Linked DNA regions of Homo sapiens: region 1 is linked to region 2. Evidence: fine-mapped expression QTL. A gene starts in region 2. The other region holds a variant in brackets. All regions are shown on one strand. Distances are between the middles of the regions. Region 1 overlaps SMAP2 (small ArfGAP2). Region 2 holds the start of SMAP2 (small ArfGAP2).

The links.
Region 1: its variant is fine-mapped to the expression of SMAP2 in fibroblasts (GTEx, PIP 0.94).

What each region holds. Positions count from the first base shown.
Region 1 is chr1:40,393,779-40,399,159 of GRCh38, reverse strand. The region is part of intron 1 of SMAP2 (small ArfGAP2); the gene reads right to left. Among named protein-coding and RNA genes, the nearest start is that of SMAP2, 23 kb to the right of the region's middle. The variant C/T (reference allele first, on the strand shown) is at 2,001.
Region 2 is chr1:40,370,496-40,375,876 of GRCh38, reverse strand. It overlaps SMAP2 (small ArfGAP2), which reads right to left and starts at 2,150. Exons shown (of 10, transcript NM_022733.3): 1 at 1,654-2,150. The coding sequence starts at 1,756. RefSeq lists an enhancer at 1,393-1,892 and silencers at 1,878-2,017, 2,088-2,407.

The DNA.
Region 1 (5,381 bases), 23 kb before region 2:
AAAATAAAAATAAAAATAAATCAATGAAATAAAAAAGAGACAGGGTCTCACTATGTTGCTCAGGCTGGTCTTGAACTCCTGGCCTCAAGTGATTTTCCTACTTTGGCCTCCCAAAGCACTGAGATTACAGGAGTGAGCCACTGTGCCTGGCCACCCTTTACTTTTTCTAAATCATACCATATTTTGTTACTATCTAATTATTTGATTGTTTAAGATGTCTTTCCCGCTTAACTATGTGTGCCACAAGAGCTGTCACCAGACCTGTAACATTCACTATCATATACTCACGGCATAGCATGGTTCCTTGAACATAGCAGGGAAGCAACATTTGCTTAAAGATTAATTAAAACTAAGTATTCTAGGTGCAGTGGCACATGTCTGTAGTCCCAGCTATTCAGGAGGCTGAGGTTGGAGGATCACTTGAGCCCAGGAGTTTGAGGCCAGCCTGGGCAACATATTGACACCCTATCTCAAAAAAACAAAAGAACTAAGTAAATCCTTTGACCCCACTTGTAAGAATTCATCAGGGAAAAAACAGGTCAAGTACACAAAGAAATACGTTAAGAATGTTCATTATTACATCTTTATGAAAATTAGAAACATTAATAGGTTACATTAAGGAATTATGGTATCACCATTTAACGGGGAAAAATTTTGGAGCCTCTATTTCATATAAAAGTATCTCCATGATATAGTAATTTTAAAAATCCAGTATTAAAAGAGTACACATGAAACAATTCCATTTTTTTTAAAATATGAATAAATGAGCTCGGTGTGGTGATATGCCTCTGTAGTCCTAGCTACTTGGGAGGCTGAGCGGGAGTACTGCTTGAGCCCAAGGATTCAAAGGCTGCAATGAGCTATGATTGCACCATGGCACTTCATCCTAGGGAACAGAGTGAGACCTTGTCAAAAAATAAATAAATAAATAAATGTACGCGTATGCACAGAAAAAAAATCTAGAAGACTATATGTAAATTATTACTATATCGGGATAATGGGATAATGAAACATCTATTTTCTTCTCTATATATCCTCTCTGAATTGTTTGCAATGAGCTTTCTATTAATTTTGCAATGGGAAAAACCAGTACAGATATCGTAAAAACAAAACAACGTAAGCATCCAGGGCTCCTTACTGGCTGCAGGGTAAGTTGAAACTCCTTAACATAATATATAAAGTCTGTTGAGAGCCTTGTACTTTACACATGCTGAGGAAGTCATAATTGTGAAATATGCAGCACACTCAAATCTCTTTGACTACACCATTCTTTCTACCTGGAATGGCTTTCTCCCTCATTCCCTGCTTGACAAACTTAAAAATCCAGTTCATCTGTGATGCCCTCCAATGGAATAAACCCTAACTTTCTCTATTGCTAATAGCCCAGGGTATGCTTTGTTCTTCTAATACTTAATATCTTGTTCGAGTTGCTTACAGGTCTCTCTTGTCCTAAATAGACTATGAGCTCTGGAAGGCAATGACCATGTTCCTTCATCATTTATCACAAACACTTGACACAATGCTAGCAAACAGAAGATGGTACACAATAAATGTGTGTTAAATGAATTCGTCAATAAGCAACATAAATGTATATATTTTTCCTGTTTTGCAAAATGAAGGGAGAAGTTTTCAAATGCCTTAAAGGATAGCTGTAACACAGAAAACGGATTAGGTTACTTTGGAAAGGCTTCAAAAGCAGAACTGGCACCAAGGAGTAGAAGTTGATTTTAGCACACTCTAGAGAAAAATTTTCTAACAATTAAGGTTGTGTAAAAACCAATGCAGCATATCCAGAAATTGTAAAATCTCAGTTAGTGCAGTGTTCAAACAGAGGTTTGGTAATCAGTTCTCAGGGATGGTAGAGAAATGATCCCCATGTGGTGAATTGGGTGAACAATGAGCCCTACAGTTCTTTCTACTACTACAGTCCTACTACTACAGTAGATGATTTGCAGTAATTTTTAGGTCCCTTCCTGCTTACCGTTCAATGGTTCTGAAAA[C/T]GTAAAATGAAACAAACAATCTATGAAGATGTTAGGTCTTGAGGAACCTAAAACACGGAATCAAATTTGGTTCATGGAGCCTATACCAGGCACTGAAAACTGGTTAAATGCAACATACATATAAGGAAAAACCTAAATCAACAAACTCAGATTTTATAAGAGATTAATTCTACGTGACATAACTTGTCATTAACTCTGACCCAAAATTTGGAAGTCAAAGTAAAAAAAGCAGCAGTATTTGTTTTAAGAACAAATCTAGTGCCAGTTACCTCAGTTCCACTCATTATATCCCTCCATTCTCTGATTCACTGAAAAGGAAGAATACACAGAAACACCAGTGGGATCTTGGAAAAATTGTGTAGGGCTGCTGAGAGGTATGTTTACCTCTATGTTTTCATCCACACAAAAGAGAGTTCATCAAGTTCCTTATTCCAAAATAACAATAAACAGTAACTTTGAACTTCTGTAAGTACAAACATTTTAAGGAACCATGAGACCAAAATAAAGGCTTATGCAATCAACCTCTGCTTTCAGAACACTTGCAAGACAAGTCCCTTTCCATCTGGGCCATCTTGCAAGAATGTTGTTTCCGTTTGTCAAAAAGAAACACTGTCCACATTTGTACTGTTGAAAAAAGAGCATAAGTTAAGCTTAAAAATGTCTGAGACAAAGAAAATTAAAACATGTCTGAGACTGGTTAGAGAATAAAGGTAAATCCTACACCAAGAAATTTAAAATTAGAAAATCAGAGGTGGAAAGGACTTTAGAAATCCTCTTAGGTCCAGCCTCTCACTGAATGCACCCTCCTTCTAGGGGTGATCACCTGGCTTGTCCAATGCTGAGTCAGTTACGTACCATTTCAAAAGGTAGTTGGTTTGTCTATTAGACGGCACCCACTATTAGAGAGGCCTTCCTTATACGGAGTCCCATTAATCTCTCTTCCTACCATTTTGATATCCTGGTGCTGCTTTTTACTCCCCCCATACTTATATAATATATCAAAGTATGAAAGATAAAGATGGAGGTTTGGAGATTCTAGCAGAAGAAAGCAGCCACTTATATACTCAACCAAAATACAAGCCCGCTGAACCAATTTAATCCAGGAGCTCAATGATAGAACAGACATAGCAATTAGACAGACTGCTGTGATTACCAATGGAGATGAAGCAAAGCAACATTATCTTCCTACCAGGTAACCGGAAAAAGGAGGTTAAGGGAGGTAGAACACTGCTAAGTACTCACTAATGAAATGATTAGTCAATCTATGTCTAAAACTAATTCAGCAGTTAACTTAAAATGGCTTTTCTCAAAAAACATTAAAGCCTGTAACACAAAGAAATCAACAGGAAAGCAGACTGAGGTCTACTAGGAGAAAGGAAGGAGGCATTCTTCATCTTTCTCATGTTATTTAACTGGCCCTTCTTATCTACACAGCTAAAGATACGAATTATCTAAATTACAGCACTAATTTCCTGTGTGACTTTAGACAAGTCAATATACCTTAACCAGATTATCTCAAACATATCTCTTCTAAAAGATAGTAACTGTATCTCAAAAATTCATTAAACTACTCTGGAAAGGTAAATTTGGCTCCACATTAATCTTACTGCCCTGTTTTATTATTATTATTATTATTATTTTGTAGAGGTGAGGTCTTGCTATGTTGCCCAGGCTGGTTTTGAACTCTTGGGCTCAAGTGATCTTCCCACCTTGGCCTCCCAAAGTACTGGGATTACAGGCATGAGCCACTGGGCCTGGCCATTGGTTTATTATTAACAGGTAGGGACTTACTGTGACTCTTCCTTGTTGTCTCTCCCAGCAGTGGAAGGTAACTAGTGTATACTTAGGTGATGTTTCTGGGAATAAAGAACTATCAATCAGTCATCCTGTATCATTATTATCAATTCAATTCCCCAGGTGACTTCAGGAGGGAAAGAATGAGATCCTAGTTTGGACTTTGTTGGCTTTGAAAAGGACATTCTGCCAACATATGTCCTGATAATGTCATCACCCCATTCAAAGCTATGTCACTGGACCCCCCACCATCAACTGAACTCCAAACTTCTAAGTATGGCTTAAATTCTCCTGTGATCTGGGTCTTTAATTCTCATTACTCCTCTTCTCACTTCTATACACCAAGAGTGACATCACTTCCTCTTAAAACTGTGTATATAGATGCCACTTGTCATGTTCCTGACTCACAGAGGAATCTGAGAGAGTGAATACTACCCACAGAGACGCACAGGCCTTTTTCTGATTTGGGGATGGGATACAGACAGAGGGACTCTTGGGTGTGGTGAGTCTCTGTTCCAACTAGAGGACCTCCTGACTGCCACAAAAATCAATGTACACATATATCAAAACACCACATTGTATACTGTAAACATATACAATTTTCATTGTCAATTACATCGTCGTAAAAAAGAATTCTTTCCAGTTGGTCCTGGGAAAGCTATGCAGTGCTCTTGGTGGTAGTGTCTGAGAGCTGAGACAAGGCCCAAGTCTTTGGGGGTTTCCCTAGGAGATTCTGGTATGTGCTGCTATGATTGTTTTTATAGTAAAGAGCCAACATATTTTAAGGAGGGAGAAAGAGCTAGCCAAGAGATTTTCTGCCAGTATTGAAGAACCTTGTAAAGTCAGTGAGATGAGACTGATTGCATAAGCCAATGAAGCCCCCAGTTGCTTCCGTTAGAGGCCAGTCCCTTGATGCTACAAACACTGAATAAGATAAAACTTAAAAATCTGAACAGGTCCACCTCTTCCTTTGAGGACAATAGACTTCTTCAAAAAAGAGCAAAAGTGGATCCCCGTAAGTTTTCATTTCATGGAGTGAACTGATGATGGCTAACCTTCAAGACATGGTTACTTGAAGATTCATCAAAATCCTTCCAATCCCTAGTGATTGGCGCCCCAAACACCTAAACACACCGCATAAGAGGAGAACAACTTCTGAGGGAAATGGTAGATGGTGTGATTGAAACACTTATCTTAAGAAAGCTTAGAACTGTCCTCCCAAGAAACCATAGGATGGAAGCAAAGAGTTCTGGAACTAAAGGAAAAAATTCTTGAAAACAAGCATATGAATGAACTCAGTTGCAAATGATAAAGAGAGCCAGCTAAAAATCTATGACTGAAACTCCTGGAGAAGATAGATTTCCTTGCTCTCTTTAGAGCCAATTACATGGATAATGGCAACTTGGAATTGGAAAAAAGGGTGAATCAGAAAATGGAGACCATTTAGATTATTGTCAGAAGTTAATTTGAAGAAACTCATTGATTCTGTTCACGCAAATACTCCTTAAAAAGGTTAGAAGTGGCCGGGCGCGGTGCCTCACGCCTTAATCCCAGCACTTTGGGATGCTAAGGCCGGTGGATCACCTG
Region 2 (5,381 bases):
TATTGGAATATGAGTAAGTATAAGGGTAATATGAGAAATGGGGGGGGGGGTTCTAGTCACCAAAATGGCATCTGACTCTCCAAATGCAGCAATGCTCACTCCAGTGGGTTGCTTCACTGTGACTCAAGATCTGTCAAATGAGGACATAAGGGAATTTGAATAAAGCCAAGATACACTCCTAAAATAAACCAAATCTTCCAATAGACCTAACAGAAGATGTAACAAGAATCAAGAAGCTAACCTACTCAACATAAATTGATTCTAAAATACTTTTTAAAATGAATTATTGCTAATGCAAAAATTCAGGAAAGAAGTCTAGGAATTTGTTTTCCTAATGGCACATTCCATTTATCTGTTGGTAGAGGTCACTAAAATACATTACTAGGTGTCTATGTATCCCTCCCCTGTTCTCCTTTTATAACCTTATTCTTCAAAAATAAAAGGTAATTAAGTGAAAGCATCAATTAAATATGTCCTTCCTTTCTCAAAATAGATAAATACGAATATAACTGAATCTTTGTTTTATAGTATATGCCCACTACGCTGTACGGCAAACAACCATGGCAAATCCACTGCATTATGAACAAAAGTAAATTGTCGCCCCCAAAATATAACTATCCATTTCGACCCAACCAAAGGGAAAATAATTTTCCCAATCCTCCAATTATATGCCAAAAGAATTAGAAAATACAGGAAAAAAAGATTCATAGAAGCTTGTATAAATGTCAAGTGCCAACATTTCACTAATAACCAAGATTTCCTATTGTACTGACTTTTAATTGTATCAAATCATGAATCTTCTAGGGCACAGAAAACAAAGACTAAATGGTTCTGCCAATTTACAATGATCATATTTCACCTTTAGAAGTGTAATCGCCATGGAAGCAATGAATTCATCGAATTCATCTTTCTCTCTCCACTGATTAAACGGATCCTGCACTACAGGCATAATCGGCTAGTTTCTGCCACCACTCATACATAGGCCTCCAACGCACTCTACAAGCCAGGGCTACACTGCCTAGAAATCCGCACTGTGTCACTGCATAAGGCAGTTTCCCACTGCACACATCCAGAAGAATAAAGTCACCTAAGCACTCTTGTCAGATCTTAGCAAGGCTGCAAAATGACAGGAGTTGCTAACCAAATAGCAGGAAGCAAAAATCACCACCTTTAAAAATCATTTAAGCAGTTTTCCTTTCCGCCATCTCACTTCCCTCCTCCTCCTCCTCGTCATTCTCTCTCTCTCTCTCTCACACACACACACACACACACACACACACGCACGCACGCACGCACGCAATGCAGTTCATCCCCAGCTTTGCAAGTGACATGCTGGGAGCTCTCTCTGGACAGCCGGCCCAGAACTCATTCAGAGCCCTCAAATACAGACATTCTCACCTGAACACGCCAGGCAACTTCCACCCGCACCATCACCTCCACCCTCCCCGACACACACAGACTCGCCCTCGCAAGCTCTACCCATACCAATCCCCCAGCTGCAGAAAGCCCAGTAGGCTCACTGCAAGCGCAGCACGCGTTACCACTTATAAGCCGAGTTGGGCGGCCTAAGCTTCAGAAACCGCCTCTTCACGCAGCCCACCCCCACCACCCCGGCGCGGCTGGACCCCTGGCCCGCCAGGTGGGATGCGCTACCTTTAGACTGGCAATCTGCACAAAACTTGTTATCCTCCTCCAGCAGCAGGTTGGCCAGGACAGCCTGGTACCGATCCACGTCCTTCACCGACTTGCCTGTCATGGCCAGGGTGCCGGCGGGGGCAGAGGGCGACGCGCCCTCCTCGCCCCCAGAGACCCCTGCCTCAGTCCGGGGTTGAGGACTCCCGGTCCCCCGCCCAGGGGCACCTCCTGAGCGGGGAGAGCCCTCTCCTCCGGCCCCGCCGGACGCCCCTTCCCGGGTCGGGGGCGTCCGTCCCCCACTCCGCAGCCCCTCGGCGCGGCGCCCCTTGGCGGGCTTAGGGACAGGCCCGCCTCCAAGAGAGGCTGCGGGGCCAGAGACCCTCAGCCCAGGCAAAGGCGGACCACGAGCCTCCTGGGTGCCGGACGCAGATGACCCTCTGGCCGGCCTGTCTGCTGGCCTTGCGTCCCGCGCCTCGGTTTCCCTGGCAGCTGCCGTCAGCTCCGCTACCACCTCCACCGCCTACTTCCGGCAGCTCTTCCTCCCCACCTCCACCCTGCCCAGCTCGCGCATGCGCCCCGCCCCCACCGCGCCGCACTGGGCTCTTCCTTCAGCTCCGCCTCTCGGGAACCAATCCGTGGAGAAGCGGGGGGCGGGCCTTGGGTGGGGGCGGAGGGAAGGGGTGGGCACGCCCCCTGCGTGTCCTTGGAAGAGAATGAATGGAGCCTGGTAGAAAGGGAGTGGAGGGAATGGAAGAAAGTGAAGGAAGACAACAACTAACATTTACTGAGCTCTTACTATGCGCTAGGCACTGTGTTAAGCGCTTTGCATGAACTATCCCAACATAATCCTCACAACGACCCTATGATCATCCTTATGTAACCTGAGGGTTGTTGATACCCCAAAGTCCTCCAGCTTGTTTTTTCCAACAGCCAAATATAAGAGTCCAAGCCCCTAACCCAGGATATAGGAACGTCACCCCCTCCCCACATTTTCAGAGGACTCTGGTCACCTCTCACTTGGAATACCTGCTCCCACTAATACTCATTAGCTCTCCTCTGTGACTCCTGCCTTTTTGGATATTGTTTGGCCTGGTGCCCAGACAGTTTGTTTCTTCTTCCATTTCTTAAATTCTCACAAAACAGCGAGTTTTTTGTGGCAGACTTTTACTGAACGTTATTTGGGAAGGGTGGGGGACAGTGATTAAAGCATAGCACACAACAGGCAACTCCTTAAAAATGATTATTAAACATCATCATCCAAAGCCACCGTTGCTACAGATAATTTCTCATTGGCTGTCCTTTTCCTTAGGGATCCACCTGCCATCTGGCTTGTGTTTTCATTCACTCATTCATTCATTCATTCACTGAGCACGATGTTACTGAGAAATTTCTAAGTATCAGGCACTGTACTAGGGGAGAGGGAAACAGCATGATCCGATTTGTGGTTTTAAAAGGTCACTCTGGCTGCCATGGAAATAATTAATCAGGGAAGATAGTAAGCAGATGCTAAGAGTTATCTAAACTCTGGTGAAACCCTCTCCTCCATTTCTTTACTTTCTCCCAAGACCAGGATCCCCTCAAAGCTTTCATCTCATCAGAGGAAAACTAAACATTTCTATTACTTTATTAATCACAACAATTAAATTTTCTGGCTAAGCCTCTTCCCTTCTAGCCATGCCTAGGGGACTTGACTTTTAAAAACACACAAGTTCATTGGGGTGTTTTTCCTCAGAAAACCCATCCAAGTAGGTATTACCATAACCATTTTTCAGTTGAAATAGACAGTCAAGATTAACTAGTTACTGGGTGTGGTGGCACATACCTGTAGTCCTAGCTACTCAGGATGCCAGAGCCAGAGCATCACTTGAGCCCAGGAGTTGGAATCCAGCCTGGGCAACACAGTAAGAACCACCCCTCCAACCCCCAATGTACCCCGTTACCCTGTCTCAAACAACAACAACAACAACAAAACCCAGTTAATTGCGGTGAGTGGTGATTGTACCTTAGTTCAAGCCCTCCCCATCTTCATCTCCTCACTCTGCAAATAGCCTTCCTGCCTTAGTCTAAATCTGGTTAAATTAATCCTTCACCGTGCTCTCTAGAGGGAGCTTTTAAATGCCAATTCTGATGGACTCACACTTCCTGCTTAAAAAATCCTTTAGTGGCTCTCCATTGCCTATGGCAGTGTTTCTCAAATTGTTCCCACCTAGTGAGAGATCTCATGGCTTTGTGGTTAAGCACACAGACTCTGGGGCAAGAATGCTTAAGTTTAAATCTTCAGCTTTTACCACCTATTATCTGTGTGACTTTGAGCAGGTTACTTAGCCTCTTGGTGCCTCAGTTATTTCATCTATAGAATGGGAATGATGATAACATTAATAGTACCTATTTCACAAGATTATTATGAGGCTTAGCTGAGATAATGCCTGTAATATAATTAGAACAGCCCTTGGTAGATAGTGAATGATAGACAATTAGCGCTCTTCACTAAATATTTCTGGCGTTTTGCCTTCTGAGCACATGGTAGGATTTTATTTCCTGGCCTTCAAGTGATTGGGAAAGACCAATGAGTTTGAGCAGAAAGGATGGATTACTTTGTCTCTGAAGCATTTATTTGTTGCTTTGAGCCTCTTGTGCTTCTCTTTCCCTCTGGCATGGCAACTATTGATGCTGAAGATGTTGGTTGCTCTATTAGCCTGGATTTCTGTGTAGCTGATAAACAAGAGCTCTCTGCCAGCCCATAGAGGATAACTTAGCATAAGCAAGAAATAAGCATTGTGTTGCCATTGAGTTTTGTTTGTTTACCACTGTATAAGCTAGCCTATCCTAGCAGATACATCAAGTATTAGCTCTTTTTATTATCATTACTAATAGCAGAGTAAAGTGAGTGCATAGCCCAGGGTCTGAGGATATAAACAAAGCAAACTGCTCCTCCCAAGTACACATTTTTTTTTTTGAAGTCTTGAATTTTGCTTTGACTAGTCTTGCAAAAATGTTCACTCTGTTCCATCATGCACATGTTATCTTATCATAAAACTGTTTCCACATTAGTTATAAAATTTTTTTTTTTGAGACCGAGTCTCGCTCTGTCGCCAGGCTGGAGTGCAGTGGTGCGATCTCGGCTCACTGCAACCTCCGCCTCCCAGGTTCAAGCAATTCTCCTGCCTCAGCCTCCCAAGTAGCTAGGACTACAGGCACGTGCCACCACTCCTGGCTAATTTTTTGTATTTTAATAGAGGCAGGGTTTCACCCTGTTAGCCAGGATGGTCTCAATCTCCTGACCTCGTGACCCGCCCACCTCAGCCTCCCAAAGTACTAGGATTACTGGCATGAGCCACCGCGCCTGGCCAGTTATAGAATTTTCTTTTCTTTTTTTTTTTTTTTTATTATACTTTAAGTTTTAGGGTACATGTGCACATTGTGCAGGTTAGTTACATATGTATACATGTGCCATGCTGGTGCGCTGCACCCACTAACTCGTCATCTAGCATTAGGTATATCTCCCAATGCTATCCCTCCCCCCTCCCCCTACCCCACCACAGTCCCCAGAGTGTGATATTCCCCTTCCTGTGTCCATGTGATCTCATTGTTCAATTCCCACCTATGAGTGAGAATATGCGGTGTTTGGTTTTTTGTTCTTGTGATAGTTTACTAAGAATGATGATTTCCAATTTCATCCATGTCCCTACAAAGGACATGAACTCATCATTTTTTATGGCTGCATAGTATTCCATGGTGTATATGTG